Linked DNA regions of Homo sapiens: region 2 is linked to region 1. The links come from fine-mapping of genetic effects on gene expression. A gene starts in region 1. The other region holds a variant in brackets. All regions are shown on one strand. Distances are between the middles of the regions.

Region 1 (2,500 bases):
TCTCAATAGCTTGATATAGTCAGCAGTGGCAACCTTCACCATTCAAAACCAAACCAAAGTTCACTTCTTTGGGCACAGCTTTAATCAGCTTCTCAGAATGGAACAAGAACCCACACTAATACCAAAGCAGGTACAGGAAAGGTTTATACCCAGATCACCAAGTAATCAGATGGGGGAAATTTTATTCTGCTAAAATACACTCACAGCTACACACCCTAAATGGAGTGGGCCAGTCAGCCCCGGAAACCGACTGGAATAGCCATCCAAGGAGAGCCATCTGTAACATGGCTTTTTTGAAATAATTTTTAGTGCAGTGGTTCTCAAACTTGGCTGCACGGTGGAATCATCTGGAGAAGTCTTAAAAGATACAGATGCCTGGGTTCCACCCCCATTCCCAAAGTCTGATGCAAATGGTCTAAGGTGCAGCCTAGGCATCAGGATTTTAAAAAGTTCCCTGGATGATTCTAACGTGCAGCCACTGTTGAAAACCACTGTTTTAGTGGGCTGTCTCTATGGCCAGGACAGACTGGGGATAAAAATCAAATCCAGACTCTCTGACCACATTCCAAAGCCAAGATAGCTTGGTTCACAGGCCCAGATAAACAGGGGTTACCTTCATCACATCCTACAGCCACCTCAAAGAGCCTACATCATCAGGACGCCAAGCTCCCCTGGGTTCATTCATTAAACACTGATGGCGTCCACACCATACACCTGGTACTACAGAGCACTGCGGCGCGGCACCTTACCAGAGCTGGAGAAATGAATAATGCCCCGGCGGTCTGCATTTTTTCAGTCTGCAGAGGGGGAAAAAATAGTAATAATAATCCCACTGAGACCCTGGTTGTTTGCTTATAATGACGACCTTTGGTCGTCCCCTTCACCCCCGTCCGTCCTCCCTAGACCACGCTCTTCCTTGCACCGTGCCCCAGCTGAGGAGGGCATTAGAGGTCAGAGGGACAGAGCAGTGGGTCTTCAAAGCAAAGTCATGGAGATCGGAAGTCAAGGAAATGTGCCCAAGCCCCAGGAAGGAAATGTTGCGAAAGGGAATGGTCTCTCGGGAAGACTGGAGGCGGATACTGGGCAGGTGTCGCGCAGGATCCTGCCCATCTTACACAGCAGTCCCCGACCCGCCCCAGCCGAGGCAGTCAATCGTTCATTACCGTTGGTAATTAACATTCATTGATAAGGCCATATCTAGATTGCCATAGCCTCTCCCAGCACTGGGGGGAAATACCCCTCCACACTGCCCAGCCCACAACCCTGCCTATTGCTGGCTCCCGGCCCCAAGTCACCTGCACTCCTACTACCCTGCAACCCCTGCTTGGCCCACAGCGCTCGCCCGGCTCAAGGTGACAGACTCACCTCCCAGCTTTAGCCCTTGGTCTCAGCGCTCAGCTTCCCCCACCCACGTGTCCTGGACCTTCTCCATTCTCATTGGCCGTAATATCCCCGCGTCCCCATTGGTTGACGTCATCGATTCCCCACTCTTATTGGCTTTCCGCAGCTGCTTCCTCTCCCTCCACAGGAGCTTCGTGGCAATTCCCGCCTCCATGCGGATAGAGGCGGGGCTTTCCTACGAGATCTGGATTACGATTGGCCGATCCCTGAAACGCTCGACCATAGAGTTGGCGGGACTCAGAGGTTCCATAACCTCGCGCACAAGATGGCGACCAAGGTGTACGCTGAAGAAAAAGGCGTGGGAGAGATGACGGGACGTGTGACGCAGTCAGACACATGACTTTGGCCCCGAGCCTTCATTCGGGCGCTTGGGCCACGGGGCGCGTTGCATGTTGGGATTGGTAGTTGCGCTGAGGGGGGGGGCCCAAGGACAGCTGAGATCCCGCGAGATATTCTAGGCCGGGAGAGCCGATGCCTTTGCAGTAATTCCCACCGTGGAGGTTTGTGGAAAGACCGCTTTCCATGGAGAGTAAAGGCCGGCTGGAAAGTCCCCAAGCGGTGAGCGCAGTTTTGTGGACCTCAGCCGGTGTTCAGCAGTCATGGACTATCATCCAGATGGCTTTCTAAAACATTTGTTGGGCCGGGTGCAGTGGCTCACGCCTGTAATCCCAGCACTTTGGGAGGCCGAGGCGGGCGGATCACCTGAGGTCAGGAGTTCGAGATCAGCCTGACCAGCATGGTGAAACCCCGTCTCTACTAAGAATACAAAAATTAGCCGGGCATGGTGGTGGCGCGTGCCTGTAATCCCAGCTACTTGGGAGGCTGAGGCAGGAGAATCGCTTGAACCCGGGAGGCCGAGGTTGCAGGGAGCCGAGATCGCGCCACTGCACTCCAGCCTGGGCAACTGAGCAGGATTCCGTCTCGGGGGAAAAAACAAACAAAAAAATTGTTTATTTTGTAAAAACAACACTGAAAGAATGAAATAATATCCCTATAGAAAAACGAGCAAAGGATAGGAACAGGCAATTCAGTAAGGAAGAAATATGAATTGCAGGAACGAATGTCAGCCTTCCTAATCAAAGAAATATAAGTTTAAACG
Region 2 (2,500 bases), 97 kb after region 1:
CTCCTGCCTCAGCCTCCTGAGTAGCTGGGATTACAGGGGCCCACCACCGCGCCTGGCAAATTTTTGTATTTTTAGTACAGACGGGGTTTTGCCATGTTGGCCAGGCTGGTCTCGAACTCCTGACCTCAGATCATCCATCCGCCTCAGACTCCCAAAGTGCTAGAGTTACAGGCATGAGCCACCACGCCTGGCTTCAGAGGACTTTTTAATGTTACTTTGTTTAGTTGCCAAGGTGCCTCTTAGAGGTGGTTACTTGTGTCACTTGACAGATCAGGAAACCAAGGCACAGTGTGGTTTAGTGACCTCCACAGGGTCACATGTTGGGACACAGAGCCCAAGTCTCCTTGTTCCTCTCTCTGACCCTGGACAAGCCTGCCCTCCACAACACTAGGCAATGTTGGAGCCAACTCCATGGAAACAAGGCGGGAGCTAGTGATTTTCAAGTGTAAATTTCTCCTCTAATGCATGTCTGACTTCTGTTCTCTCCTTCCAGCCCTTTATCATTGATGGGTTTAAGTTTGACCTACGGATTTATGTACTGGTGACATCCTGTGACCCTCTCAGGATTTTTGTGTACAATGAAGGACTGGCCCGCTTTGCGACGACCTCTTACTCCCGCCCTTGCACAGACAACCTGGTGAGCTAAGGAGACACACTACCTCACCCTACCCCCATAGCGTGATTAAAAAAAAAAAAATTCTAGTTAAATCCACATCCTCAAGACATTGTGAGTGTCATTTGTTGAGCACTTGCTATGTGCCGGGTTTCATTTAGCGCTGCCAGGATCCCTCAGAGAGAGGGATTATTATCCCCATTTTACAGATGACGAGATTAAAACCCAGAGCATAAGGGACTTGTCCAAGGTCACACAGCTAGGAAGAGGTGAGTCTGGGGCTTGTGGCCAGGTCTGCCTGACTCCAAAGCCAGAACCACAGTTCAGGGGTAATCAAGGAGAAAAGGCCGTGGATGAGCAACCCTGCCATCCCCACCTTTCCTGGACCCCCAGGACTCCTGAAGTTTTTCTCAGGCTGGGCACCACCCAATCTCAGAAAGAACTGGAGTTTCTTTTTTTTTTTTTTGAGATGGAGTCTCGCTTTGTCGCCTAGGCTGGAGTGCAGTGGCATGATCTCGGCTCATTGCAACCTCTGCCTCCTGGGTTCAAGCGAGTCTCTTACCTTAGCCTCCTAAGTAGCTGGGATTACAGGTGTGCACCACATCCCCGGCTAATTTTTGTATTTTCAGTAGAGATGGGATTTCACCATGTTGGTCAGGCTGGTCTTGAACTCCTGACCTCGTGATCTGCCTGCCTCAGCCTCCCAGAGTGCTGGGATTACAGGCATGAGCCACCACGCCCAGCAGAATTGGAGTTTCTTAGGCTCGAGGCTGCAGGACACCCCTTCTTACTTCCTGTATTTTGCCACACTAAATAAGCCCTAAAACTTCCCTTTCTTTCCATCCCTTCAAGCCCCAGGGGCCATGGGAGGGCACAGAGAGGAAGCAGGGG[G/T]CCTGCCCTTCCGAGCTGACCCGACAGATGTGTGTCTTTTTCCCCAGGATGATATCTGCATGCACCTGACTAATTATTCCATTAATAAGCACAGTTCAAATTTCAGTCGAGATGCACACTCTGGCAGTAAGAGGTAAGGAAGAGGCTTCATTTTTCTTTCCTTTCCCTACCAACCTCAGAACTGCTTTCTGGGATTCTACCCAAACCCTGTTAGTCCCCATCAGTGTTTCCATCTTGGGTCACATGGTCTGAGAATATACTCCTTTGCCTCGCAACCCAGAACAAATTCCTTCATCTCTGCCCTCTTGGCTGTTAATCATTAAAAGAAGGCCCCATCGTAAACCCTGGGAGGCTGGGAGGAGGAGAGATAAACATGAGCTGTTTCCCCAGCAGAATATATACACACACCAAAACATACCCTTATTACAGTTGGCCCTTCTGATATTTCCAAATCAACAGATATTTATTGATCGCTAGTCTGCCACGTGAGAAGGACTTGCCAGGCAGTCATTGCTTGGCCCATGTTCCCCTGGACGTTGCTCCATTAGAGATTCTCAAATGATGTGTCACAGTGCCCTGACATGTGGCTAGCCGGCTTGAAGATTCCTCAGAAGGGGGGAAATTGAGAGCAGTTCATGAGAGTATCTTCACGAGAGGCTTTTCCATTCCTGTTATTGTCTAATCGGGTCTCATTTGAGTTTTAAGAAAACGGGGGACTGAAGAATGTGAACTTGACCAGGTGAAGGAGGAAAGGGAAAAGGAGCAAGTATTTCTGAGGCTTCATGTGTGTTGGGGTCTGTGCTTGGTGCTTTCTGTGCATTTTTTATTGCTGAATTTTTCTTTTCTTTTCTTTTTTTTTTTTTTCTTTTGAGACTGAGTCTTGCTCTGTCGCCAGGCTGGAGTGCAGTGGTGCGATCTTGGCTCACTGCAACCTCTGCCTCCCGGGTTAAAGCAATTCTCCTGCCTCAGCCTCCCAAGTAGCTGAGACTATAGGCA

What was found. PIP is the estimated chance that this variant, and not a neighbour inherited with it, causes the effect.
Region 2: its variant is fine-mapped to the expression of ATP5MC1 in prefrontal cortex (GTEx, PIP 0.98).

Annotation. Positions count from the first base shown.
Region 1 is chr17:48,891,706-48,894,205 of GRCh38, reverse strand. ATP5MC1 (ATP synthase membrane subunit c locus 1) reads right to left here and starts at 1,419. Exons shown (of 5, transcript NM_005175.3): 1 at 1,296-1,419; 2 at 750-797. The coding sequence starts at 788. It overlaps LOC105371814 (a long non-coding RNA gene), which reads left to right. Exons shown (of 4, transcript NR_135674.1): 2 at 1,529-1,959. RefSeq lists enhancers at 617-666, 707-816, 1,397-1,516, 1,527-1,986, 1,624-2,500.
Region 2 is chr17:48,795,198-48,797,697 of GRCh38, reverse strand. It overlaps TTLL6 (tubulin tyrosine ligase like 6), which reads left to right. Exons shown (of 16, transcript NM_001130918.3): 7 at 494-637; 8 at 1,552-1,637. Among named protein-coding and RNA genes, the nearest start is that of TTLL6, 21 kb to the left of the region's middle. The variant G/T (reference allele first, on the strand shown) is at 1,505.